2 separate regions of the Homo sapiens genome follow, and region 1 is linked to region 2. The links come from fine-mapping of genetic effects on gene expression. A gene starts in region 2. The other region holds a variant in brackets. All regions are shown on one strand. Distances are between the middles of the regions. Region 1 overlaps FUBP3 (far upstream element binding protein 3). Region 2 holds the start of FUBP3 (far upstream element binding protein 3).

Region 1 (14,449 bases), 63 kb after region 2:
GGCCACTGCTCACCTCAATGGGGACGTAGAATGGCAGAAAGAGCCTTGGGCCAGCCTAAGTTGACGGGAGAGTCAAGCAGGTTGGTCCCTACCCCCAGGGTGATGCCAGGGCAGTTGTGGTGGTGCCAGGACTGGCTGTGTGGTGGTATTGGTCGCTGGAGGGCAGAAGCCATTTCTGCAGCGCAGCCTGCTGTGGGAAGGAAGGCTAGTGTGAGTGCGTAGGTGTCCTTACTTCACTCGACTCCATCTCCCCAAAAGCTGGGCTTTGCCTCGGGGTGGGCCTGGGCAGAGGAAAGAGGTGTGCAACCAACAGCGGGTGAGAGCTCCCTCTGTGCCCCCACAGGGGACCAATCTCGGAGCACCTGGAGCCTTCGGACAGAGTCCATTCAGCCAGCCACCTGCCCCACCTCATCAAAAGTGAGTCTTTTGCATCAGTCTTGCCTGGGAGAATTCACTCGCTCCCCAGAGATCCCCTGTCGTTTCCAGCTACTTCTAGCGAGTGCCAGCCAAGGCCTGAAGTTCTGGGCGTGGGCAGGACTCGTTTCTTTTCCTCTCACCAGCGGTCCCTCCGGCCTATCACTCACTGACCTCAGCGATGGGGTGGGAGCCTCTCAGAGGGCAGAGGGTCTTCTGTCCCGACTGCCCCCTCAGTGCCCTGGGGCTGCGGGGAGGGGACGAGCCCTCTGTTGTGAGGCGCTCAGTCTGTTGTTTCTTTTACCTTTTCCCAGTACCTTTCCTCCAAGGAGCTCCGGGTGCTTCCCAAACATGGCTGCCAAGGTGAATGGGAACCCCCACAGCACCCCTGTGAGGTAGGTGACCTGCTGTGACTCAGTTGGGGACAGACGGCACTAAGGTGGTCACTTGGCTATTGCCGACAGGCAAGGGTCCGGTGATGCTTGGCTGGGGTGAGGGAGGTGAGCAGTGAAGAGGGAGACGACAGGGGTGACTTGCCCCCTATAGGAACGAGTGACCCTCTTGTTATCCACAGTGGTCCTCCGGCCTTTCTGACCCAGGGCTGGGGCAGCACCTACCAGGCGTGGCAGCAGCCCACACAGCAGGTCCCAAGTAAGTGACTCGGGGCGGGGAGTGCATGCCCTCCAGAAAGGTTGCGGCCCACAGAAGTCCTGGGGCCAAAACGCCCTCGTTCAACTCAGCCAGCAGGCCCAGGATGCCCCTCCCCAAATGACAAGGAGCCCTCTGGGTGGGGCTTGGGCCCTCCTGCAGGCCTGTACCAGGGGTTGTGCATGCTCAGAAAAAGGCCCCAAGGGAAACTGCACAAACCTCAGGCGGGCTGGGGACTCTGGGCTGGCCCTCTCTTGGCCCACCTGTCCTCAGAGTTCTGGGCCTCTGTCACTTTCGTTCCCTATGCATGGGTGGGGATGGGTTGAGCCAGCTTCTGCTCCTCCTCTTCTCCACCCCTTGAGGGGCTGGTTCCTGGCCCTCCAACTCCCTGCCCCTGCCTTGGGTGGCTGCCTTCCTCTCCCCTCTCAGGCTTCCATCTCCTGAACTTTTCAGAAGCAAACAGCTAGGGAATGACTTCTTCTGCATCCCGCCTCTCCAGGGAGGCTGGTTGTGAAGGAGAAAGTCCTGGTGGGAATCAAAGCCGCCACCCTCTCTGTCCCCACAGACGCTTCAGGAACCACTGTTGGGTTTCAGAGCTGGTCTAGCCCCTCTGGCATGGCCTTCACAAAGCAAAGCAGAACCCTTACCTTAGTACGATCCACGTTCTTTTGACCCATCTGGAGTTTCTGTCCTGTGTTTAGAAAGGCTTCTTCAGTGTCTGCAGATTCCCACAGCACCCAGGCCGCAGGCCCCGCCTCACAGCCTGGCTCGGAGGGCCTGAGCCCCCTTTCTGGGGTTCTGCCACTTCAGCCTTACACAGAGTCCTGAGGCCAGTGCTGTGTGGCCTTAGGCACGCCCTGCCTTCTCTGGAGCTCCACTTTGCCACATGTAAAATCAAGGGTTTGGGTTTGAATTCTAAAGTACTTGCATGCTCTGAAATTGTATAGTTGTGTTTCTTCCCTTTTTTTCCCCAGTATCTTATTATGAAACGTTTCAAATATCTTAGAACACTCTGCAGTGAGCACCCACAAGGCACCCAGATCCCACCATCCATCCCCTTTCCCTCTGCTCGCTTGGCCATAGGGGCTAACCCTGTTTCCTTTCCTCGGCTCCTCACCTGCTGTTCTAGTCTGAGATAATCCTCCAGGCAGCAAGGTGGCCAGGATTGACTCTGGGGACACTGAGGCCTGGGAGGCCTTCAGGGGAAACGGCCCCCTGGCGGGTGGAACGGGCAGAGGCCTGTGGGCTGAGGAAGGGAGAGTGCAGGAGGCACCCGGTGGTCTTGCCGCCATTGGGCAGCCTTCATCTCATGTTGTGGAGCTTGGCTTTTTTTGTTTATTCAGGGGTTTTGCAGTGGAGAACCGGTTTGGGTTGGTGAAATACTGTTTGGCGGCGAAGTCCTGCTTGCCGGCGCCCTCCGCGTCCGAGGGAAGAGTGTTTGCTGCCTGTGTCCCTCTTTCGCCCTGCCCCTGTGGGAGGAAGCGGGGCGTCTCCTTCCCTCCTTCCTCCCGCTGCTTGCTTCTTCCCCACGCTGCTCCTCAGTATGCAGTAAAGTGAACTAGTGGAGAAAGCATTTGGCTGCATGCTCTCTGCAGTGGTTTGCCCTTCCTCCCTGCTTCAGGCTACAATCCTTACAGGAGACGAGACAGTGAGGGGGTCTTTTGTGGGCCTTGGCAGGTGGACACCTGAGCCAGCCCCGGCCTGGGCAGAAGGAGAGGTCCTGACCCGCCACTGTGGTCAAGTCTTTGAACCCCCTCTTGTGCCTGGCAGGGTGCTGAGGCTCTGTTCCCCCATGCTGGCTGTTTCTCCGCGTCCCCCAGTCTTCACTGCCCACATAGCCTAGAGGGTGAACCCAGGGTCCTGCACAGAAGAGAAGGGCTGGACCACCCAAACACATGCACCCCCTTTCCCTCTGCCCTACCCCAGCTGGCCTGAGGCTGGACAGGGTCCAGGAGCCCACTGGTGCTGCCTACCCCTGCTCCACATGGCCCCTCCACTTCCCTTGGTCCAGAGGCACAGCCCCCAGGCCTTGAACAGAGGGCCACGCGAAGAGAGTGGTCAGCAGCCTCTGGAGTCTTTGTCCTTTGGAAGGCTGATTGGGGAGCCTCAGAACAGCAGTGGCTGTGGCCGTCAAGCTTGCGTCTCCATCTGAAGAGGGTCAGGCTAGCCTTGCTAGTTGCCTCGTGTGCCCAGCCCCACCCTTACAGTGATCTTAGTTACACCCCTTCCCCCAGCCCTGCCAGCTGCCACCTCCTTCCCAGGCAGGGCTGCGGAGCCGTGTGTGGCCAGGAGCGAGGTGGAGGAGTGCAGGGCAGGGCCTGCAGCTGGCGGGCTGGGGCCGAGGCTGTGAGGAGCCCG[T/C]AAGGCCTGACTGCTTTTGTGTTCTTCGCACAGGCCAGCAGAGCCAGCCGCAGAGCAGCCAGCCCAACTACAGCAAGGCCTGGGAAGACTATTACAAAAAACAGAGTGAGTGCCCGGCCCTCCTAACCTGTGGCAGCACAGTCCCCTCCAGCCCAGAGACTTCAGAGTCCAAGGCTCACTGTCACCTCTTTTTTCCCTAATGCCTTCCCTGTGTGGCTTGATCTCATTATTTGCCTTCGTCCTCCACCCTGTACCTGCCTGCTTCTTTCTGTCAGGAGTCTGGGCATAGTCAGTCAGTGACCACAGGCTGCCCTGCGACTCGGCACATCCCCTCCTCTTTATTCTCCCCGTGCTGGGCTCCAAAGGACTTGAGGTGGGCGTGGCACCTGGAAGTGTGGGCTCAGCTGGCGTCTGGTCTCCTTAGGGACTGAAAGATTCCGGCTGGGTGCCACCTGGCCGGCAAACAGACCAACCAGACATCTTGTTCTCTGTCTTGGTGCTTCAGGGCAGATGAGGAGAGGTGGTGAGATTCAGGGAAGGAGGCCTTACCTGGGCATTGGAGCTGGGTGCTTAGTTTCTCTTCTTAAGTAGGCCCGTTTTCTAACTACCAGAAATGAAACCAGCCTTCAGAGCAGGGCGAGGGACCCAACAAGCAAAAGGTCTCTGGGGAGTCACATAAAATCAGGACCAGACTCTCGGGATATATCCCACGATTACTAGACCGGAGGACTGAGGGCTTGTTTAAAGAGGTATCTCACGTGCCTTGTGTTTGGAGGATGTTTCTTGCTGGTTGGAAGAGATCGGGTTGAAGGCTACCAGAGAAGTGGTCCCCCTGGTGTTGGCATCATCGCCAGGTTCATGGCCCTTCTAGGGGTTGGAGGTGGGGGTGTTGAGTCATGGTCACCAGAGTGCTGTAAGCTCAGCTGCCCAGTCTTCCCCAAATCCCAATTCCCAGACCCCTGGGCCTGTGTTGAAGCTGTTCACAGGATTTGGACACTATCACAGGCACCCAAGTTAGGTACTCCCCTTCTCCCCCACCCCCACCCCAGGATCCCCCCTTCTCTGTCTGTCACAGGGCCCTGGGAGCTGAAGGGGCAGGCAGGGAGATGCAGAGAATGCGCTTCCGCAGAGAGAAGGCAGGCGTGAGGATTGGTCTTCACAGGCATAGCAGGGGCCGGGCAACAAGAGGCTAACAGCACCTTTTGTAGCAAGCGCTCCTGCAACACCAGCCTCACCTCACTGCCTCCCAGACCTCCCTGCCTTCCAGCCGTCCGGAGGGAGAGCAGATGCCCAGGGCCTTTGGGAAGGGTCCTGCCCAGTGCACCTCCGCTCCCGATAACCTGTGTTTCCTCCTTTGTCAACCAGGTCACGCCGCCAGCGCTGCTCCTCAGGCCAGCTCCCCACCGGACTACACAATGGCCTGGGCAGAATATTACAGACAGCAGGTCGCTTTCTACGGACAGACGTTAGGGCAGGCGCAGGCCCACAGCCAGGTCTGTAGCTGATCACCAGCACCGCTGCCACTCCCTAGCCCCGAGCCCCTGCTCCCAAGCCTTCTGTGTTTCCTGACCCCAGGATGAGAGCGCTGGGCTAGGAGGAACCTCTGGGCGCCATAGCTCCTCAGCGAGGCTGCTTCTGCTGAGAGCCCGGCTCCAGCCCCTCTGTCCCTCCTCGCTCTGGAGAAAAAGAGTTTAGGCCAAGTGGGAGGATTGGGGGCGCAGCCCCTACAAGGAAGTGCCTGAACTTTCCTCAAGTCCAGGCCCCAGACCTCAGGGCTGATTAGTAGTCTCTCTCTTCCTCTAAGCCTCAGTTTCCCTAACCGTAAAGGAGCAAGTGCAGAGGGTGCGCTCCGGCGACTGCTCTCGAGGAGGGTGGAGTGGCCAGGCCGTCAGCCATGCCCGGGCAGCAGCAGGAAGCAGTGAGAGGGCAGGGGGGCAGAGCCCAGCTTTCCTCTCCTGTGCACAACCTAGAGGGTTCTGTTCAGAGGCCAAAAACGGATTTCTTATTAAAGAAGGGAAGACGTCCAAATGTTCCCACAGGGCGCATTTCCCACCTGATGCCAGTCAGGTCCTCATGGATAACATTTCAGTTACCTCCTGGCCCTGGACTCAGCTGGTTGGGCCTCTCACTGCCAAATTGGCCGTCTGGGTCTGGTCCTGGGGAAACAGGTGTCAGGGCTGGTGGTGATGGAGGAGAAGCGTGGCTCCCACTGTCCGCTCTTCCCTGCCCCAAGTCCCTAGTGGAGAGAGAAGCCCAAGACCTCTTCAGCAGAGGTTTTGTCTGGCCCAGCTCCCGTGACGCGAGACCTGGGGGAGGTCACTGGCACACAGACCTGAGAACCTGCCATCACAGACTAATTCCTCTTCCCTTCCGCCCACAGGAGCAGTAGGACAGCGTCCTCGTGGCCAACTCTCCCCTCAAAATCATTGTCAAAGAAAACCTATTTGTAACAGAGGTTTTTACATTTGCAAACCTTTTGATGAAGAACTGTTGTTTTGTTCTGTGAAACACTATATTTAGATTAACGGAATTTTTCTAAAAATCAGGAAAATTAGTTACTAAAAATTGCTGATCATTTTTGTTTCATTATTTTTGTTATTTCAAATGTATAAGCTCTGGGATTCTTTTTGGAGCAATACCTACAAAGTCAGGCACCAGAATGTGCCTCAGAGCTGTGACATTTCAACATGATGGTTTTGGTTTGGTTTGGTTTTGTGTCCTTTTTATTTGCAGTTTTTTCTGTTGCAACAGAAAGTGGCTTGGAAGTCTTAGGTGGTATGTAACAAATTCTTTTTAAAAATTTTAAAGCAGTATTTAAGTATTCTTAAATGTGTAAATTCATTTAATGTTTTACTTCTAATTTCTTGTATCTTGGCTGTCTGGTTTTATTGCATTTTTAAAAAAACTGAACTATTATGTATTGTAATGAATGATGTGAATTCTGAACTGAGACAGATAATTGTATTGCTGTCCAACAGGGGTTGGGAGGGGCATTTTGTAGGGTTTGTATAATTTCTAGAGTTCGAAAGGGGTAATATAAAAATGTGCTCGTGTGTTTAGCCTACGTTTTTCTCATGCCTCCATTACCAGTTGCAATTGTGTATCTAAGACCTCCAAGCTTGTTTTTAAAACAAAACAAAAAACCTTTCTCTATTATCTCAGAAATATAAATACTGTTATTTTTAATATTAAGAAATTCAATATAACTTTTAACACACACTGTGGAACATTAAACCGTATAAAAATGTAGTTATAACTATTTTTAATTCCAAGGTGTTGTTTGCTTTTTTCTTTTAAATATTTTCTTAATATTTTGTCAGATTAACTAGATGAATAAATAAATCTAGTATTAACCGCATTATGAATTAAATAATTTTGATTTAATGAAAGGGATAATATGATTTCCAGTGTTTACTGTAGTGTATCTTGTACAGATAACATGTATTTTTAAAGGAAAAAAAACGGAATTGAAGCTATTTTTTCTTGCATTTCTAATTGACCTGAGGGACATTCCGTTTGAAATGTACTGAAGTTACAGTTTCTGGTTTTTTCTCCTTATTTTTCTTATAATGCTTGAAATGTCTAACTATTAAAAAAGACAATTGGAAAATGTTATGCATGGGGTTTTTAAGAAAACAAAGTGTTCTTTTTATTTGACTGACAATTCATTTTACACTCTATATAATAAAATCTCCACAAGGCATCTTGTGGGCAAAGTCTTTCTGGCCTGTTTGCTTTCCATTCGCCGGTTCATCCCTCTGCCCCTGCCCGCGGCCGCCCGAGAGGGAAAGAGGATTCCTGCGGGCCTCGCCCGTCATCTTGCACCGCGTCCACCCGCCTTCGTTGGTGCACAGTCTAGATGTCTAGCTAGTTCGTTAAGCTAATTTTATGTTAATGGCTCTGTATGATTTGACAGCTTGACTTGAGAGCCGTGGTTGGGCTCAGCTCCCCTTCCCTGTCACAGTCAGGCATCTGTAAGTGAGAAGTCAGTATGGGAGTGTCATCGGATGGAGCTGGGAGATGCATTGAAGGGCGTGCGGCGGGTCAGCAGACTTCTGCGACTGACTGGGCAGCCCCTTGCCCTCCGCCCGCTCCCCTTCCCTGCGTGCCCATGCACACACATTCGCCTGCAAATGTAGGTGGGCTGCCCTAGGCGCGGTGTGCTTCCCTGACTGTTGCTGCCTGCATCCCCCACCTCCTTGTCCCCAGCCTCACCTGTGGCTGTGGTGGTGGTGCTTTCTCGCTCTTAGCCCCGTGCCCACGGTGGGACACCAGATCGCCAGGAGGGCTGGGAAGCATCAGCACACGTGCTCGTTATGTCCTGTCCTTTCATGAAGAAACAAATGGGGCGTCCTTCCCCAGAGGTGTTAAGTTACAGTCCTGTGGTCTTAGGACTCGTGGCGACAGTGTGGGCCTCAGACTTGGAAGGGCATTAAGTAATAGCATCAGCCCTCGCCTTTTTTTTTCCTTCTGTCCCGTTGGTTGGGGTGACTGGCATTGAGCAGTGTCTGCTTTCACGTCTGAGGGGCCCTGCCTTCGCCCTCAGGCTTTCTGTGCGGGTCTCTACTTAGATATAGAGACCTGTTTCCATCCTGAACGGGGCTTGCTGGGCTGTGCCTGGCCAATACCGGCCCCTTGTCTGTACTCCAAGCTTCTGACAGGAGGGGAAAAAAGCAGCTGTGGCTCCTTCAGGCCGAAAAGGGGTGTGGAGAGCAGCCCATCTGCGGCCATGGCAGGCCTGTTGAGAGCCGGAAGACAAAAAGGAGATGTGGCATTTTTAACTGCACCTCTAGAGAATCGAGTTTGACGTTGAGAAATTGAATAGTAAAAGGCACTTGGAAAGTGGGGGGAGGGGGCCGAGTGGGAGGAGGGCGTAAACGCTGATGACGGTAATGGGAATTCGGGAGAGGGCATTACAGAGAAGACTTCCTTCTAATTCATCTTCCAAGCTCTGTGCCAAAACAGCATTTGGCATGGTTCACAGGGAGCGATTGTGTGATAATGAACCCTAAGGTGTCCCTTAATTGAAGACTGAGCATTGTGGTTTGTGCCAAGAGTCATAAATGGCGCAGGCTTGCGGAGGATGCATTTTCTTAAATGTATCGGTAAGTACAGATTAGCGCTTGTCCCCAGTGAAATGCCCATACTATAAATTATGGAAATCTCTCTTTCTCTCTGATGCAATCTTTTATTGGGGGGAGGGGGTGTGGTACGACAGGAGGCGGGGGGGGAAAGTTTGCAAGCATATGAAATTTGGCCTCTCATTAACATGGCGCCCAAGGAAGATGATTTTCATCAGCAGTCTGGTGTACTGGAGGCTAAAGTGCTTGAAATGTACCAAGTTCAGCGGTTGTGTTCCATTAAGAAAGATGCATGGTCATCACTGTAAGGGCGGTCGGGGTCCGGGAGGCGGGGCGGGCGCTTGCCCAGTCTGTCTTCTGAATGCATGCCCCACCCCCACCCGCCACCGCCCATGCCTACTGGGTCTCTGCCAGCCTCCCAAGTTCAGGATCCATCAAGGACCCTGCTGAGCCGATCCCAGCCCCACCCAGAAGTTTGGGCTGGGGTTGAGGAGTTCTCAGCCAGCGGGCCTCAATCAGTACCCCTGGCCTCCCATCAGATAGGAGGCACCATCTTTCCAGGGTCACTCGACAGTGGTGACCACCCATGATGTCCCAGAGCCCCCAAGGTAGGGTCGGCTGGGGCACAGATGGCACAGTGCAGTGCCTGGTCCATGAGAACGTGGGTCACCCCAGAGCCGCAGCTTCTAGCTGGCTACAGCCCCACTCTCTCCCAGCCCCACTTCTGGTCCACTAGGGCCCAGCTGGGGTTTTTTAAGATGGGCTGAAGCAAATGGGCCTGATAGATGCTTAGAGATTAATGGCCAGAAAGTGGCTTGACACTCAATTCCGCAGGGGGCTGCAGGCCCTGGGTCTGTGTCTTGGGTAGGGTGGAAGGGGAAGCAAAGACAACCCTCACTGCCCTTGAAACAATGGTCATCTTGGCTGTCCTTTGTCTTGAAGGTGTTTCTGTAGCATCTACCAAGGGGGTCCTGGCCCTTTCCAGGTACCTGCTTCCAAGGTGGTCTCTGCACCCTGGGAGGTAGAAAGGCCTAATCTCCCCATTTCACAGAAGAGGGCTCAGAGTCAAAGGCTGAGACCTGCCTTTATTCACACGGGCATGGAGGGGCCAGTTCTGTGCCAGGTTCTATGCTGCACTCCGTCTGGGGCTTCAGAGGAGAGCGTGACCACCGCCTCCTGGGGGCGCACTGTCTTTTGTAGTCACCACCAAGGGAGATGGTTGGCAGGATGGGAGAAGATCTTGAAAGTTAGGGTTGAGTACCAACTTGGCCAGCCCTGGAAGTGCACTACAGTCATTCATCATTTTCAATTCCGTATTTGCAAATTCACCTACTCACTGAAACGTATTTGCAACCCCCAAATCTACCCCCACAGAGCATCTGCGGGTCATTCACGGTGAAAAACGTGAGTTACCGGATGCACGTGTTCCCAGCTGAGGTGGAAAAGGCGGCGCTCTGCCTTCTGGTTTCAGCTCTCGTGTCATAAATAAGCACTTTTCCTTGCAGTCTACTTAGTGCCACAGTTTTTGCATTTTGTGCCTTTTTTTTTTCTTTTTTGACAGTTTTACTGTCTAAAGTGGCCCCCAAGCATGGCACTAAAGGGCCATCTAGCATTCCTAAGCATAGGAAGGCTGAGGTGTAGCTGATGGAGACAATATATGCGTTCTGCCTCTTGCAGGCCTGAGTTACACGGCTGTTGGCCACGAGTTCAATGTTAATAGGTGAACAATATACATATTAAGTAAGGAGTATTTATTTTTATTTATTTTTTATTTTTGTTTATTTATTTGTTGAGATGGAGTCTTGCTCTGTCACCCAGGCTGGAGTGCAGTGGCACGATCTCGGCTGACTGTAACCTCCGCCTCCCAGGTTCAAGCAATTCTCCTGCCTCAGACTCCCGAGTAGCTGGGATTACAGGCGCCCACCAACATGCCTAGCTAATTTCTTTGTATTTTTAGTAGAGATGGGGTTTCAGCGTGGTCAGACTGGTTTCAAACTCCTGACCTCAAATGATCCACCCATCTGGGCCTCCCAAACAGCTGGGATTACAGGCGTGAGCCACCGTGCCCGGCCAATGAGGGGTCTTTAAACAGAAACACACATAAAACAAGATTATGGAGTGCTGATGCATGCCTGTAGTTCCAGCTACTAGGGAGGCTGAGGGAGGAGGATCACTTGAGCCCAGGAGTTCGAGGCTGCAGTGAGCTATGTCCGTGCCTGGGAATAGCCACTGCATTCCAGCCTGAGCAACACAGCAAGACCCCATCTCTTAAAAAAATAAAAAAGGGGCTGGGCGCAGTGGCTCATGCCTGTAATCCAGCACTTTGGGAGACCGAGGTGGGCAGGTTGTCTGAGATCAGGAATTCGAGACCAGCCTGGCCAACATGGTGAAATCCCGTCTCTACTAAAAAGACAAAAATTAGCTGGGTATGGTGGTGCACGCCTGTAATCCCAGCTACTCGGGAGGCTGAGGCAGGAGAATTGCTTGAACCTGGGAGACAGAGGTTGCAGTGAGCCGAGACTGCACCACTGCACTCCAGCCTGGGCAACAGAGCGAGATTCCGTCTGAAAAAATAATAATAATAATAATAAAATAAAACAAAATAAAATAAAAAAGATTATCTATAGATTGGTGTGGACACTGGCTTGCAGGAACCTTGCCTTGTATTTCCCTTAGGAACAAGGGTTTAGTATTTGATGATTCAGTATTTGCAGAGACTTTATATATCACTACCATGAACAACTAGAATCCACTGGCTCTTACTTTCCTATAAGGAAAATCCGACTCTTATCCCATTTTGGAGATGAGGAAATAGGGTTTTGCTTGTCTGTTTGTTTTTTCTGAGATGGAGTCTTGCTCTGTCACCCAGGCTGGACTGCAGTGACATGATCTCGGCTCACTGCAGCCTCCGCCTCCCGGGTTCAAGCAATTCTCCTGCCTCAGCCTCCTGAGTAGCTGGGATTACAGGTGCCCGCCACCACACCCAGCTAATTTTTGTATTTTTAGTAGAGACAGGGTTTCACCATGTTGGCCAGGCTGGTCTCGAACTCCTGACCTCATGATCCACCCGCCTCGGCCTCCCAAAGTGCGGGGATTACAGGCGTGAGCCACCGCGCTCGGCCAAGGAAACAGGTTTAAATAGGTTCTGATCAGAGTCATACCATGGTTGTGCACATGTGACCTGAGAGGTAACCAGGACTATGCTCCCCATTTTACAGATGAGGGCTCAGAGAGGCTGGAAACTGTCCTTACTCACACAGGCACGGAGGGGCCAGTTCCATGGCAAGTTCGTGCTCCACTCTGCTGGGGTTTCAGTGGAGAGCTACACTCTTGCTGAGGCCTCCTCAAACCTTAGCCTGGCTGCGATACCGGCCTGCCTTGCCACACCCACACACGAGCAGAGCCAGGCACATGTGCAAGGAATGCCTCACGTGGTTCTAGTGGGGCCTGGCGAGTTCAGCCTACCTAAGGCAGCAGGGTGTGAGGCATGAATGTGTGGACACTTAAACTTGGGTCTGAGTCCTGCCTGCACCTCATATGACCTAACCTCTGGTATCCTAAGTGTGGGGCTAGCAGCCACCTGCCCGCCTGTGGGGCTATGATAGGAGTCAATGGCACACAAGTAAAGCGCTTCACACCTGGTTCTTAATGGGCACTCAAAAACTGGCAACCGGCCTGGTGCAGTGGCTCACATCTGTAATCTCAGCACTTTGGGAGACCGAGGCGGGAGGATCGCTTGAGCCAGGAGTTTGAGGCCAGCCTGGGCAACGGAGTGAGACCCCACCTCTACAAAAAAAAAAAAAAAATTCTAATTAGCCAGGCATGATGGCGCATGCCTGTAGTCCCAACTACTTGGGAGGCCAAGGTGAGAGGATCCCTTGAGTCCAGGAAGTCGAGGCTGCAGTAAGCTGTAATCATGCCACTGCACTCCAGCCTGGGTGACAGAGCAAGACCCTGTCTCAACAAACAAGCCAAAAAAAGCCGGGTGCAGTGGCTCTTGCCTGTAATCCCAGCACTTTGGGAGGCCAAGGTGGGTGGATTACCCAAGGTCAGGAGTTTGAGACCAGCCTGGTCAACATAGTGAAACCCTGTCTCTACCAAAAGTACAAAAAATGGGCAGGGTATGGTGGCAGGCACCTGTAATCCCAGCTACTAGAGAGAGTCTGGGCAAAAGAGTCACTTGAATCCAGGAGGCAGAGGCTGCAGTGAGCCGAGATCGCACCACTGCACTCCAGCCTGGGTGACAGAGCTAGACTCCGTCTCAAAAAAAAAAAAAAAAAAAAAGCCGGGCGCGGTGGCTCATGCCTGTAATCCCAGCACTTTGGTAGGCCGAGGCGGGTGGATCACGAGGTCAGGAGTTGGAGACCATCCTGGCTAATATGGTGAAGCCCCGTCTCTACTAAAAATATGAAAAATCAGCCGAGCATGGTGGCAGGCGCCTGTAGTCCCAGCTACTGGGAGGCTGAAGCAGGAGAATGGCGTGAACCTGGGAGGCAGAGCTTGCAGTGAGCAGGATCGCGCCACTGCACTCCAGCCAACAGAGCAAAACTCCGTCTCAAAAAAAAAAAAAGAAAGAAAAGAAAAGAAAGGTTCTTCCCTAACTCCACTTCTTCAGTCAAGGGGAGAGAACGATCAACAATTTCCTTCAGGCAAAGGGAACCCACAGGCCTCACTTTTGTTCCCAACTTGGACAGATGACTTTCTGTGACTTGGATAGATCAGCTCTCTTGATCTGTTTTCTTTCCTTGGAATTGGACCACACAAGTGGTTTCCAAATTATGGTAGGTTGGTGTCAAGGATTTCATGGTTGTTTAATTCACATTTCGATAAAACACGTTAAATATTAAATGCATTTAAACTTTTTTTTTTTTTTTTGAGACAGAGTCTCACTCTGTTGCTCAGGCTGGATTGCAGTGGTGTGATCTCGGCTCACTGCAACCTCCGCCTTCCAGGTTCAAGCGATTCTCCTACCTGAGCCTCTCGAGTAGCTGGGACTACAGGTGTGTGCCACCACGTCGGCTAATTTTTGTATTTTTAGCAGAGTTGGCCAGGCTGGTCTCGAACTCCTGACCTCAGGTGATCTGCCTGCCTCAGCCTCCTAAAGTGCTGGGATTACAGGCGTGAGCCATTGCACTCAGCCTTAAACATTTTTAAAAACAATTTGTAACCATAATGTTTTTTAAAAACACCATGCACTCAAGTACATTATATGCTGCACTTTCTTTTTCCCTTCCTTTTTTTTTTTTTTTTTTTTTTTTGAGAGGGAGTCTCTCTCTGTCATCCAGGCTGGAGTACTGTGGCATGATCTCGGCTCAGTGCAACCTTTGCCTCCCAGGTTCAAGCAATTCTCTTGCCTGAGCATCCTGAGTAGCTGGAATTACAGGCGCCCACCACTATGCGCTAATTTTTGTATTTTTAGTAGAGACGGGGTTGGCCAGGTTGGTCTCAAACTGGTTGGTCTCGAACTCCTGACCTCGTGATCCATCCACCTCGGCCTCCCGAAGTGCTTTGATTACAAGCTTGAGTCACCGCGCCTGGCCAAAGCTGTATTATTATTATTTTTATTTATTTATTTATTTATTTATTTATTTATTTTAATTTTTATTTTTTTGAGATGGAGTCTCGCTCTGTCGCCCAGGCTGGAGTGCAGTGGCACGATCTCGACTCACTGCAAGCTCCGCCCCCCGGGTTCATGCTATTCTTCTGCCTTAGCCTCCTGAGTTGCTGGGACTACAGGCGCCCGCCACCACGCCCGGCTAATTTTTTGTATTTTTAGTAGAGACCGGGTTTCACCGTGTTAGCCAGGATGGTCTTGATCTCCTGACCTTGTGATCCGCCCATCTCGGCCTCCCAACAAAACTGTCTTAATTATTGTACCTTTACAGTAAGTCCTTCAGCTTTGTTGTTCTTCAAGATTGTCTTGGCTACTCCCAGCCCTTTGCATTTCT
Region 2 (14,878 bases):
GGGTTTCGCCATGTTGGCCAGGCTGGTCTTGAACTCCTGACCTCAGGTGATCCACCTGCCTTGCCCTCCCAAAGTACTGGGATTACAGGCACAAGCCACCACACCCAGCCCTGATCCCTTTGTCAATCAGCGATAATTTTTGTTTCAGATGATCATAAGATTTCTATCTAATACAGGAAATGAGAAACTGTAACCCCGAAAGCCAGATGACCTCCTGCCTTCCCAGAATGAATAATCCAACCCTGATGTGTCCCCAGACCCATCTGGAATTCTGAATGGGGAAATCTAGGTAGGAATGAAGTCTGGGAACTGGAAAATGAAGGATACTTTTTGTACGATTCCACCAGGGGCCTGGTAGTCAAGAGAATGAGAGTAGTAATTTAAGATAGTGGGGTTTGGCACGTACAAGCTATTTAGCAAGCAGGCATTATGGAATAAACACGCAAGCAGAAGCTCAAAGAGAAGAAATGTTCAAAACATGACATTGTTTTCATCTTTTTAGCCTCAGAACGTGGTAAATTCATTCACACATGATTTGTTTTTGTCTACATTCACTAAGCATCTAATATATGTCTACCAGGACGGAGACTGTTGTGCTAAGCACACCAGAAATGACCTCTGACATCTTGTAACATCCAGTCTAGCAGGGGCTGCCTCATAGTAAGTGTTCAGTACGTGTGTGTGTGTTTGTTTATTTGTTTGTTTGTTTCGAAAAAGGGGCTGGCTCTGTTGGCCAGGCTGGAGTGCAGTGGCGTGATCTTGGCTCTCTGCAACCTCCACCTCCTGGGCTGAAGCGATCCTCCCACCTCAGCCTCCCAAGTAGCTGGGATTACAGGTGCGCACCACCACACCTGGCTATCAATACATATTTTGCATGAAATATTTAGTAATCATTTCTGTATGCTTCGTGGCATTTAATATGCAGCCAGTTTTTGACAAATGTCATGCTTGAACAAGTTTCTCACAATCCAAAGTGAAAAGTCTCCCAGATCATACACAAAACAAAACCAAAATACAATAGCTGGGGCTGGTCGATCTGAAGGGGATATACCCAATCTTGCAAGGGTTTCTTTGGCTGAGTTTTTCCCACAAGCCAGTGAGCTTTGTATTCACAGGCAAAACCCCGCCTGAGACACCTGTCAGCCACCACCATTACTTGCTGCAATAAAGGTATAGATGAATGTTCTCAGACTTTTTGAGGGTAGATTTGAGAGACCACCTAGAGGCCTAAGGTAGAAAATCAGGCCATATCATATGGTCAGAATTGATCCTATTTATAATAGCCAGTTAAATATATGTGAGTAACTCTTCTGTGTAAAGACCTCATTACAATGAAAGTATCTCCAGGCAATCACAAGGATGAGGGGAAAACAAAATATTAAAAATGAAAGTAAAAATATTAAAGGTTTAAAAGCTACAGTATCAGCCAGGCACGGTGGCTCACACCTCTTATCCCAGCATTTTGGGAGGCCAAGGCAGGCAGATCACTTGAGGTCAGGAGTTTGAAACCAGCCTCGCCAACGTGGTGAAACCCTGTCTCCACTAAAAATATACAAAAGTTAGCTGGGCATGGTGGTACACACCTATAATCCCAGCTACTCGGGAGGCTGAGGCAGGAGAATTGCTTGAACCAGGGAGGCAGAGGCTGCGAGCCGAGATTGGGTCACTGCACTCCAGCCTGGGACACAGGGCGACTCCATTTCAAACAAACAAACAAACAAAAAACTACAGTATTAAAGTGCATGGGAGGGAGAACAACAGCTGACAAGAAGTACTAATACAGATACGTGACTCACGCCTATAATCCCAGCACTTTTGGAGGCCAAGGCAGGAGGATCACTTGAGCTCAGGAATTCAAGACCAGCCCAGGCAACATGGTAAGACCCTCATCTCTATGAAAAAACATTATTAAAAAACAATTTCTGGCCGGGCGCGGTGGCTCACACCTGTAATCCCAGCACTTTGGGAGGCCGAGGCAGGTGGATCACGAGGTCAGGAGATCGAGACCATCCTGGCTAACACGGTGAAACCCCATCTCTACTAAAAATACCAAAAATTAGCCAGGCGTGGTGGCGGGCGCCTGTAGTCCCAGCTACTCGGGAGGCTGAGGCAGGATAACGGCGTGAACCCGGGAGGCAGAGCTTGCAGTGAGCAGAGATCGCGCTACTGCACTCCAGCCTGGGGGACATAGCGAGACTCCGTCTCAAAAAAAAAAAAAAAAAATTTTCTATGCCGGGTGCAGTGGCTCATGCCTGTAATCCCAGCACTTTGAGAGACCAAGGCGAGTGGATCACTTGAGGTTGAGAGTTCGAGACCAGCCTGGCCAACATGTTGAAACCCCGTCTCTACTGAAAGTACAAAAGTTAGCCGGGAACTGTGGCAGGTGCCTGTAATCCCAGCTACTCAGGAAGCTGAGGCTGGAGAATCCCTTGAACCTGGGAGGCAGAGAGTGCAGTGAGCTGAGATCACATGACTTCACTCCAGCCTGGGCAACGGAGCGAGACTCTATCTCAAAAAAAAAAAAAACAATCCTAGAAGGCACAAATCACAAATTGGATGGCAGAGTAGCCATAAAGCAGAGCAGAAGCCAAGAATCTTTGCAGGCCGGACGTGATGACTCACACCTGTAATCCTAGCACTTTGGGAGGCCGAGGCGAAAGACACTTGAGCCCAGGAGTTTGAGACCAGGCTGGAAAACATGGCGAGACTTTATTGCTACCGAAATTTAAAAAATTAGCTGAGCATGGTGGCGTGCACCTGTGCTTCCAGCTACTCAGGAGGATGAGGTGGGAGGGGGATTTCCTGAGCTCAGGATGCCAAGGCTGCAGTGAGCTGTGTCCACATCACTGCACTCCAGCCTGGGCGACAGTGAGACCTGTGTCAAAAAAAAAAAAAAAGGCTGGGTGAGGTGGCTCACTCCTGTAATCCCAGCACTTTGGGAGGCCGAGGCGGGCAGATGGTTTGAGGTCAGGAGTTCGAGACAAGCCTGGATAACATGGTGAAACCCCATCTCTACTAAAAATACAAAAATTAGCTGGGTGTGGTGGCAGGCGCCTGTAATCCCAGCTACTTGGCAAGCAGAGGCGGGAGAATCGCTTAAACCCAGGAGGCTGCAGTGAGCCAAGATGGCGCCACTGCACTCCAGCCTCGGTGACAAGAGCGAAACTCCATCTCAAAAAAAGAAAAAAATTCAGGAAATCGACCCAAAAAGGCTACTAGAACTAATAAGTGAGTTTAGCAAGTTTTAGGGATAAAAGTTCTATCTAAAAAGCAATTAGGCTGGGTGTGGTGGCTCATGCCTATAATCCAGCATTTTAGGAGGCTCAAGCAGGATAATTGGTTGAGCCCATGAGTTTGATGGGCAATATAGTGAGACCCTGTCTCTACTAAAAAATAAAAAACTAACCATTGCATGGTGACATGGGGCTGTAGTCCCAGCCACTCCGGAAGCTGAGATGGGAGGATTACTTGAGCCGGGGAGGTTGAGGCTATCGTGAGCTGTGTTTGCACTACTGCACTCCAGGCTGGGTGACAGAGCGAGACTCTGTCTCAAAACCAAAAACAAAACAATTAATTTCTGTACATCAGTAATAAATAATTGAAAATCAAAATGTTAAAACATATCATTTACAACAGCACCAAAAGCCATGAAATATTTAGGTATAAATCCAACAAAATATGTGCAGGATCTGTACACTAAAAACTATAAAACACTGGGCCAGAAATTAAAGACCAAAATTAATAGAGTGATATATAATGTTAATAGATTGGAAGACACACTATTGTTAAGATGTCAGTTTTCTCCAAATTGATCTATAGATTCATGATTTCAATCAAAATCCCAACAGATATTTATTTATTTATTTATTTATTTTAGAGAACAAGTCTCGCTCTGTCGCCCAGGCTGGAGTGCAGTGGTGTGATCTCGGCTCACTGCAACCTCCGCCTCCCAGGTTCAAGCGATTCTCCTGCCTCGGCGTCCGAGGTAGCTGGGATTACAGGCTCACCCCACCACGATCTGCTAATTTTTGTATTTTTAGTAGAGATGGAGTTTCGCCATGTTGGTTGGCCAAGCTGGTCTCGAACCCCTGACCTCAGGTGATCCACCTGCCTCAGCCTCCCAAAGTGCTGGGATTACAGGCGTGAGCCACCACACCCGGCCTAGATTTTTTTTTTTTTTAAGATATCAACAAGATAATTCTAAAATTTATTTGCTAAGACAAAGGAACTTGAGTAGCCAAAACAATTTTGAAAAAGAAGAACAAAGTTGAAGGACTTACACTACCTGATTTTAAGATTTACTGTAAAGCTACAGTAATCAAGACAGTATGGTGTTGGGGAAAAGATAGCTACATATGTCAATGGAACAGTATAGAGAGTCCAGAAATAGACCTACACGTTTGTGGCTAATTCATTTTTTTTTTAAATGAAGGTACAAAGGCAATTCAATGAAGAAAGAATAGTCCCTTTTACAATTGGTACTGAAACAATCAGACACCCTTATGATAACAAAATGAAGCCAGGTGTGGTGGCTCATGCCTGTAATCCCAGCACTTTGGGAGGCTGAGGCGGGAGGACTGCTTGAACTCAGGAGTTCAAGACCAGCCTGGGCAAGATGGTGAGACCTCATTTCTACTAAAAAAAGAAAAAAAAAAATAGCCAGGTGTAGTGGTGCATGCCTGTACTCCCAGCTACTGGGTAGGCTGAGATGGGAGGATTGCTTGAGCCCCAGAGATTGAGGCTGCAGTGAGCCATGTTTGTGCCACTGCACTCCAGCCTGGACAACAGAGCAAGACCCTGTCTCAAAACAACAACAACAACAACAAAGAATCTTGACCCGTACCTCACACTTGATGCAAAACTTAACTCAAAATGGATCATAGGCCTAAATGTAAAACCTAAAACTATAAAACTTCTAGAAGAAAACATAGGAGAAAATCTTTGTGACCTTAGGCTAGACAGTTCTCTTATTAGATAAGATACCAAAAGTACAATCCATAGAACAAAACATTGATAAATTGGGCATCATTGAAATGAAGAACTTCTTCTATTCAAAAGACAAAATAACAGAAAGACAAGCCACAGACTGAAAGAAAATATTTGCAAATCATGTATTTTATAAAAGACTTGTATACAGTATATAAAGAACCTTCAACGTCCCCAAATTTTTTAAAAACCCAACTTCTAAAATGGGCAAAACTTTTGAACAGACAGTTCATCAGAGAACATCTACAAATGGCAAATAAATTAGCAGAGTTGTTTGCTGAAACCAAAGCAAAACAAAATATCAAATGGCAAATAAGCATAGAAAAAGATATTCAACTTCATTAGTTATTAATTAAATGCAAATTCAGGCCAGGTGCGGTGGCTCACGCCTATAATCCAAGCACTTTGGGAGGCCGAGGCAGGTGGATCACCTGAGGTCAGGAGTTCGAGATCAGCCTGATCAACCTGGTGAAACCCTGTCTCTACAAAAAAATACACACACACACAAAATTAGCCAGGCGTGGTGGCACGTGCCTGTAATCCCAGCTACTTGGGAGGCCGAGGTAGGAGAACTGTGCGAACCTGGGATGCAGAGGTTGCAGTGAGCTGAGATTTTGCCATTGCACTCCAGCCTTGGCAACAAGAGTGAAACTCTGTCTTGGAAAAATAAATAAATAATAAATAAATAAATGAACTTCAAACCACAATGAGATGCTACAACACACCTATTAGAATGGCTAAAGTTGGCCAGGCGTGGTAGCTCACGCCTGTAATCCCAGCACTTTGGGAGGCCGAGGTGGGCAGGTCACGAGGTCAGGAGTTCGGGACCAGCCTGGCCAACATGGTGAAACCTCGTCTCTACTAAAAATACAAAAATTAGCCGGGCATGGTGGCACACGCCTGTAGTCCTAGCTACTCAGGAGGCTGAGGCAGACGAATCGCTTGAACCCAGGAGGCGGAGGTTGTAGTGAGCCAAGATTGCGCCACTGCACTCCAGCCTGGGTGACAGAACGAGACCCCGTCTCAAAAAAAAAAAAAAAAAAAAAGGCTAAAGTTTAAAATGCTGACCAGACTCAAATGTTGTCAAGTAGGTAAAGAAACTGGAAAACTGGAATGTTCACATGTTGCTTACAAGAATGAAAAAAACTGAAAAATGGTACAAGCACTTTGTTGTTTCTGTTTGTTTTGTTTTGTTTTTTAGAGACAGGGTCTCACGATGTTGCCCAGGCTGGTCTCAAACTCCTGAGCTCAAGGGATCTTCCCTCCTTGGCCTCCCAAAGTGCTGGGATTACAGGCGTGAGCCACCACGCCCAGCAATAAAACTGTTTAAAGAAATATTGGAGCCAGGCGAGGTGGCTCATGCCTGTAATCCTAGCACTTTGGGAGGCTAAGGTGGGTGGATCATCTGAGGTCAGGGGTTGGAGACCAGCCTGGCCAACATGGCAAAACCCCGTCTCTACTAAAAATACAAAAATCAGCCATGCATCGTGGTGCATGCCTGTAATCTTAGCTACTTGGGAGGCTGAGGTAGTAGAATCATTTGAACCCAGAAGGAGGAGGTTGCAGTGTGCCAAGATTGCACCACTGCACTCCAGCCTGGGTGACAGAGTGAGACTCAATATCAAAAAAAAAAAAAAAAAGAAAAAAATATATGTATGTGTATATATATGTATGTATATATATGTATATATGTATATGAGATGCTAGAAGACAATAAGAGATGCCTTCGGTCTTCTAAAGGAGAATTATTTACAATCCAGAGCTCTATAACTAGCTACATCATTAATTTTGAGGGGCCAGCTGAGTTGGCTCATGCCTATAATCCCAGCACTTTGGGAGGCCAAGACAGAAGGATTGCCTGAGCCCAGGAGTTCAAGACCAGCCTGGGCAACATAGTAAGGCCCTGTCTCTATTAAAAAATAACGTTTTTTTTTAAAGTGTGAAGGCCGAATAGATTGTTTTGGAAAAGTGTGGTACCAAAAAATTTACTAGCCAAATTTACTAAGTTTCTTTGAACTTACTTGAGAGTGTAGCACTACTCTATGGTACCAGCAGGGTGGTACGAGGCCAAAGGTGGAATCGGGGAGATATACAGTCACTTTCCTGTCAACAATGGACAGCATATTTGACGGTGGTTCCATGAAATTATAACACTGGGCCGAGCTTGGTGGCTCACACCTGTAATCCCAGCACTTTGGGAGGCTGAGGAGCGTGGATCACCTGAGGTTAGGAGTTCAAGACTAGCCTGGCCAACATGGCGAAACCCCATCTGTATTACAAATACAAAAATTAGCTGGGTGTGGTGGTGGGCGCCTGTAATCCCAGCTACCTGGGAGGCTGAGGTAGAGACAATTGCTTGAAGCCGGGAGGTGGAGGTTGCAGCGAGCCACAATCATGCCACTGCGCTCCAGCCTGGAAGACAGAGCAAGACTCGGTCTAAAAAAAAAAAAAAAAAGATTATAACACTGTATTTTTACTGTATCTTTTCTATGTTTAGATACATGAATACCTACCACTGTGTTACAACTGCCTACAGTAGTCCATATAGTACCATGCTGTACAGGTTTGTGACCTAGGAGCAATAGCCTACCCCATATAGCCTAGGTGTTGTAGTAGGCTATACTATCTTGGTTTGTGTAAGTATGCTTTGAGATGTTCACATCATGATCCATTTCTCAGAACATAGTCCCATCACTAAGTGACAATTACATATATACATATACATATGCATTCCCTATTAAAGGTAGATTCTAATTTACTCTCAGATGCTAAGACAAAGAGAACTATTCCAATCATTGGATCACTCCTATTGCTCCAAGGCATGCCTGTATCCCTCAGTCAGTGTTGGAGAGTCTTAATAATTCTATTTTTAAATTTTCAGATTTCATGCTGACATGCTCCTTAGTCTGCACTTGAAATTCCAGTGGACACTTGACATTGGAAAAGGTCTGCTCTGGGGACCTGTGAAAATCTCTAAATGGAGAATTCTCTCACTCACGATTTATCGCTATAAGCTATTTCTGCCTCAGAGATATAAACAACGCAGATCTTGGGATGGCAAGGCAAAGCTTCCCCAAATTACAAATGACCAGATGCTGAGGGTCTTTAGGGTAGTTAACGAATTCTGGAAACCACCCATGTTATATCCTTTAAAATCTACTGTACAACATTCTCCATGCTTATTTTTTTCTCTTGATGTATTTGAAAAATCATGTTACTATTCAAACATATTTGCTGTTTCTCCCTGGAGATGGACTATATTTCTCTGCCACTTGATCAGTGCTTGGCCACGGCTTGCTTTGGCCAATTAAATGTGAGCAGAAGTGCCATATGCCACCAACTTCTAGGCAAAAGCTTTAAAAGCCAATGTATGCTTCATACTTCTGCATCTTATTGACAACAGGCAAACATTCTTCAACCAATAAAACATGAACAAAAGTAGTGCCTAGCATTTGAGGAAGAAGCTTTAAAAACCAGTTCGTGCTTTGTCACTCGCTTCTTCCTCTGCCCTGATAAAGTTTAATGTTCCAGACAGAGGCTGCTATCAGCCTTGGCTGAAGAGTAAACAGGACACGTAGTGGAGGCAACACCATGTTCATGTATCCAGTGAGAAATAACCTGTATTGTTGTAAGCTACTGAGGTTTTAAGGCTTGTTACTGTAGCATAACCTAGACTCTCCTCATTGATACAGTTTCATTTTAGCGTGGCTTCTAGTTGGTAATATCTAGAGGCATTGCAATGTTATCAATAGGAATGGTTTGCAAAACTAGTCACAACCACAGTATGTGGATTTTTCTTTTCTTTTTTTTTTTTTTAGACTGAGTCTTGCTCTGTTGCCCAGGCTGGAGTGCAGTGGCACGATCTCGGCTCACTGCAACCTCCACCTCCCAGGTTCAAGTGATTCTCCCACCTCAGCCTCCCGAGTAGCTGGGATTACAGGCACCCGCTACCAAGCCTGGCTAATTTTGTGTGTGTGTATTTTTTTGTAGAGACAGGGTTTCACTATGTTGACCAGGCTGGTCTTCAACTCCTGACCTCAGGTGATCCGCCTGTGAGCCACTGCACCCGGCTTTTTTTTTTTTTTTTTTCGAGACAAGGTTTTGCTCTTCTTGCCCAGGCTGGAGTGCAATGGCACATTCTCAGCTCACTGCAACCTCCGCCTCCTGGGTTCAAGCGATTCTCCTGTCTCAGCCTCCCAAGTAGCTGGGATTACAGGTGCCCTCCACACGCCTTGCTACTTTTTGTATTTTTAGTAGAGATGGGGTTTCACCATGTTGGTCAGGCTGGTCTTGAACTCCTGACATCGGGTAATCTGCCCGCCTCGGCCTCCCAAAGTGCTGGGATTACAGGTGTGAGCCACCACACCCGGCCGAATTTTTCTTTTTTAACCTCTAAGAATCTTTCCCTGTCTTCTTTGGACAAGATCATCTCATTCATTCATTTCACAAATACTGAGAGCCAACCAAATGCCAGGCATTGGTGCTAGGTGGTAGGGAGAGCAATTAACAAGACAAACATAGACCTTATGTCAGCAGAGGCTTTATTCTAGTGGAAAAGGCAGACAATAAACATATAACTGCATGATGATTTAAAAGCAACTGTGATAAGTGCTATAACAAGATGATGAAGTCTAGGGTGTTAGTAGAACAATTAACAGTGAACATGACAAGCTCAGGGTCATCTTCATCTTCTGTGCCCCCAAATATAAGTGACCTGCTCAAAGTTAACCAGTAAAAGAGGGGAAAACAAAACTGTCTTCCTACTTAGGGATTCTCTGGTCTTTGGACCAAACCTTGGAATACAACTTACATTTGGGCCAATAGCCTTGTTTTCCCTATTTATACTCATAGGGAAAGCCAGCTGGAATATGCATGAATCAACATTCTAACCTCAGAGATATATTTCTAAAATTCAAAACAGAAGTTATCACTGATACTTGGTTCAGCTGAACGACTGTGTTCATGAAAGTTGATACCATTGCCATTCCTTGATTTTTACAAGCATAGCAAACTTAAAACGCTCAACACACCCAGAATGGGCAATAAATGGATGTGTTGGCATGGTCCTCCTCGTGCTGGCACTTCAACAACACAGCAAGCTATGTACTTTTGAACAGGGGTTGGAACATTTTTTCTGAAAGCAATCTTCAATCTTGCAATTTTGCCAAATTCTTTTATTTTGCCATAATCTATGAATTATTCTACTTGGCATTATTGAATGCAAAATAAGTTTACTAAGCACCTACTATGTGCCACACCCTAGGGATACAGGGAAAAATAAGTCTCTGCTCTAAAGTAACTCACAGTCTAGGAAAGAAGTCATTAACAAATAAATAACTATACTTTGGTTATTGGTCAAGTATTCCTCATACTTCTTTAGAATGCCCAAAGCTCTCTTGGCATAATGACACAGTGAGGGGTGAGGGTGGGGTCATCAAGGAAAGTTATATGGGACTTTTTTCCCCAAGAAAGGGTCTTGCTCTGTCACCCACGCTGTACTGCAGTGGCGTGATCATAGCTCACTGCAGCCTTGACCTCCAGGGCTCAGGTGATCCTCCCACTCCAGCCTCCCAAGTAGCTGGGACTACAGGTGTTTGCCACCACGCCCAGCTAATTATATTTTTTGTAGAGACGGGGTCTCACTATGCTGCCTAGGCTGGTCTTGAATTTCTGGGCTCAAGAGTTCTGCCTGCCTTGGCCTCCCAAACTGCTAAGATTACAGGCGTGAGCTACCGCACCCGGCCCGTATTGGATTTTATTTATTTCCTTTTCTTGGTGCTCATCCTCCTTCACAACTTCAAGATGGGCATAAGATGTTTGACAACATGGTTCTTCATTAAGTCCAACTCCTTATCATAATAGGGCTTGGGAAATATTAAACACGAGGGCAATCGTGCTAACACAAAAATGGGCGCCCCCTAAACCTTGTTACTTGTTTGCTCACTTATAAGAAGAGCCAACTCAAAGGCTCAACTGAATTCTAGCACTAAGATTCCTTCCTTGCTGTAGAAGATCTGTACCTGGTCACTTCCATTAAAGTTACATAGGCGTTCCAAGAAGCCTCCTGCAATACAGTTGTGACTCAGCCGGTATGGGAGTAATGACGGTCCTGTGGTATTTCCTGCACCCCCAGAGTCCCAGAGTTTGTTAAGGACCGTGTAAGAGGACACCACGCTGGCTTTTCAGTGGGCGCGTCTCTCCTGGGGGCATCACCAGACAACCCCAGGCGGAAGTGGCGGTGGCCCATCCTCATGCAAACTGCAGTGTAAGAACTGGGGCCCGGGACTCCTCGCAAATGTGGGACACTGACATTCTGTGATGCTGTCCCAATGCCCTTTCAAAGCGCTCAGCCCCCAAATTCCCAACCAACAGCCATTTCAGGGAGGGGCTACCCAGGACCAGGCTTTTGATGAACCACGACTGTTCGGGGTGCCGTCTTGGGAGAGCCACGTCAGTCCCTCTGAGATTCCAAACGGCCGACAGCGGACACCTCGGGACCACATCCAAGCCTCGGGGACCTGTCAAGACGCCATCGACGGTCCTGGACCAAATCCCGCCCGGGAAGGGAAGGGTCGCGACCGGACCCTGGAGACCCACGGCTGCCTGGCGATCTGAGCCCACCCCGGCGCTGCCGTCCCGCCCCCACTTCCGATCGGTCGAAGGTCACGTGCCCTGACCCCGCCCCGCAGACGCGACTCCTCCAGCTGCGAGCGTCCCGGCTTTCCCTTCCGCCGGAAGTAGGGCGACTTTCCTTTTCCGGCTACGGGTCCCCAAGCGGAGCGGGAGGCCGGACCGGGGAGCCGAGCGGCGGCGTCGGCGGCGTCGGCGGCGGCGGCGACGGCGGCGGGGGCGGTAATGGCGGAGCTGGTGCAGGGGCAGAGCGCTCCTGTGGGGATGAAGGCCGAGGGCTTCGTGGATGCCCTGCACCGGGTCCGGCAGGTACGGGCGCAGCCGGCTGGCAGGAGCACGAGATCCCGAGGCGGGGCCTGGCGGGCGGGGAAGAGGGGTTCGGGCCTGGGGGGCGGGAGGCAGCCTGAACCGACGTCTCAGCCGGGCCGGGCCGTTCCGTGGAGTTCCTACAGCCGGGAGGAGCCGGGGGGATAAGGCGCCACTGCGAGGCCCAGGCCCGGCCTGTCGGGCGGGTCTCCCAGGTGCCTGAAGTCGCTGGGAAAGGGTTTGCTTAGAGCGTCTGGCCCCATCGTGCCCCAGCGGCCAGCCTGGACCCACAGTGTAGCTAGCGCGGGGTTCTGAACCTCGCGAGGGGAGGGGTCCGGGAAGCCCACGGGGAGGATCTGGGTGTAGACATAAAGCAGCTGTCTGACGCCCAGTAGCTTGTTAAAACTTGGGGAACATCGTCTTTAGACTTTCTGTTGAGTAGAAGGAACTCGAGGGCATCTTATATGTGAGGGTGCTCTTTGGAGAGGTGAGAGAGGGAGGTGTTACATGTGTGGGGGTGGTCCCCAAGATGTAGAAATTTCTCATGGCAAGCTTGCCTCTACTGGGGAGAATGATATGGCCTCATTCCGACATTGAAACTTTACTGTCTGACAATGTCGTGCATTTAATCAAAGTTAAATTAACTGGGTTTTAGAAGGCTCCAGGCTTCCCCAGAGAGTGAATATGGGACCTGCCAAAAATACTTACTGGCTTCTGGCATGGTACTTAGAACAGAACGTGTTCTTCATTTGTATCTAAAACTTACTTACAAGTCAGCCCTAACACTTCAGCTTCCTCGGTTAAGTGTCTTATGTCCTCCTCTCTTCTTATGTAATTGTAAGCGCACTGATACTTTAAAAGTTGGGCTATAACTAATTACTGCTTGATTCCTAACAGAAAGCCACAGGAGTCATTGTATTAGAAGAAGGTCTTCACTCGGGCGCTTGAAGATATGGTCTTTACATCTCTTTCCAGTATTCCAGGGGAGGGAACCCTACCTGTTTCCCTGATAACTGACTTTTCATGTTATATATTGATGCTCCTATAGACATTATATTGGATCCCAGAACTTTCCAAACCTGTGGTTCCACCTAAAATTTTATCTGATGAATTGTTACTTTACTGCCTAGCTGCCAACCAGTACAGTAGTGAGTATCCATCTTACTTAGACTTCAGATCCACCCATGGCTGTAATGGATGAACATGCCACCCAGCTCCCCTTCCACCACTCTGCTTGCTGGCGTGTTACAGTGCTCTCCTCTACAGTACAGGGTCCTGAACCTTGTTTCTCACTGGCTACTAATATGTAATGGCTTTCGCTCTGTGCTGATGTGTGACAGTCACCTTGTTGGCCTTCTATGTCCGGGAAGAATTATAGTCACTGCCCTAAAGGGCTCAGATCCTCAGTTTGCAGAAGGCCTGTAGTTGAACATAAAGTGAATTTTGAACCATTGAGAAGACATTCCGCTTCTCTTGAGCCAGTGGTTGAACTCATATTCTTGGACAACCTGCTCCAGAGGGAGACCCTCTGGTAAATGCTGACCTAATGTGGATTGTTGAAGCAGTGGTGTTTACTACTAGCAGTGAAAACTTCATTGGAATTGTTCTCAGCTCTGAAATGCACCATTGACTGGAGCAGTAATAAGCCCAATGGAGACAGGGCTGTAAGTGTGTTCCTTCTGAATGTTAACAGCTGGAGGTCCATACTATCTCCAAGGATTTGATGGCCTTTAAAAACTAAAGAAAAACCAGGTTGGTGGGTAATTTTAGGTTTATTGTATATAGATTTGCATTGGGCAAGAACGGAATGTTAGAAATCTGTAATACTGTATGCTGATGGTAAACTTACTGTAAGGATCTCATTTGGGTATCTGGAAGGTGATAGTTCTGTTTCTTTGTTATATACACAGCATGTTACAGAGATGTGATTTTTCTCCCCATTAAACAGAACTAAAAGACAGTATATTTATTTAAACGCAAAGCTTTTTCCCCTTTTATGTCTCCTCATAAACTCCAGAGACAGTCTGGAAGGCCCTCTTAAATTTGTCAAAGAGCAGTAAAGTGTCTCACGCTCAGTTTTTCTAGCAGATCGTAATACTCTCAGTTGACCCTGCTGGGATTTGAACCTGCAGTTTCTATTAAGTTTGGTGTGTGAAGTCCAACACCTTATCAACTAGGCTTTCCCTCTGACATCTTGAAGCCTCCGTGTATATCCTTTGGACTCTGCAGCAAAGTGCATCAGTTGTTAGTTTACTCTGAGCATGGTATTCTTAGATTGAAAAGAAGTCTCTGAAGATGTCAAATAAAATGTAAACATTTTCTCCAGCAGTGTGAAGTCTAGTGAGTTAATGTTTGGCACAAGCAGGTAATTTACATCCATTCTATAGGGTAGTAGAAATGTGATCTGGGCAAGTCACAGTGGCTCATGCTTGTAATCTCAGCACTTTGGGAGGCTGAGGTAGGAGGATGGCTTGAGCTCAGGGGTTTGATACCAGCCTGGGCAACATAGCGAGACCTTGTCTCTACTAAAAATTAAAAAAATTAGCTGGATGTGGTGGCCCACCCCTGCAGTCTCAGCTGTTTGGGAGGCTGAAGCAAGAGGCTAGCTTGAGCATGGAGATCAAGGCTGCAGTGAGCTGTGATTGCTCCGCTGCATTCCAGCCTGAGTGACAGAGTGAGACACTGTCTCAAAAAAAAAAAAAGAAAAAGAAAAAGAAAGAAATGTGATCTCATTCAGTTCCATGGATGAAGATCTAAAAACTGCTGGATATTAAAAAACATCTGTCTACTTTTCCCAAGTCATTGGCTGGTTAGCAGAAGTAGTGTTTCTTCAACTAGTTCAGATAAGACAAAATCCTGAGTAGTTCATCCTGTTCCACAGCCGTCCTCTGCACTTCTATACTGACTGTCTGCCTAGGTTACAAGGGGACCTCTGGATGAGTAGATCCAAGTCTGG

Evidence for each region. PIP is the estimated chance that this variant, and not a neighbour inherited with it, causes the effect.
Region 1: its variant is fine-mapped to the expression of FUBP3 in tibial nerve (GTEx, PIP 0.96).

The regions. Positions count from the first base shown.
Region 1 is chr9:130,631,214-130,645,662 of GRCh38, forward strand. FUBP3 (far upstream element binding protein 3) reads left to right here. Exons shown (of 19, transcript NM_003934.2): 14 at 344-417; 15 at 729-809; 16 at 989-1,065; 17 at 3,454-3,525; 18 at 4,786-4,913; 19 at 5,801-7,139. The coding sequence ends at 5,809. Among named protein-coding and RNA genes, the nearest start is that of MIR6856, 12 kb to the left of the region's middle. RefSeq lists enhancers at 997-1,747, 7,039-7,634. The variant T/C (reference allele first, on the strand shown) is at 3,421.
Region 2 is chr9:130,567,840-130,582,717 of GRCh38, forward strand. FUBP3 (far upstream element binding protein 3) reads left to right here and starts at 11,738. Exons shown (of 19, transcript NM_003934.2): 1 at 11,738-11,925. The coding sequence starts at 11,842. LOC100272217 (a long non-coding RNA gene) reads right to left here and starts at 11,655. Exons shown (of 1, transcript NR_027440.1): 1 at 9,511-11,655. LOC124902286 (a long non-coding RNA gene) reads left to right here and starts at 12,001. Exons shown (of 2, transcript XR_007061818.1): 1 at 12,001-12,409; 2 at 12,820-14,247. RefSeq lists a silencer at 11,686-12,055.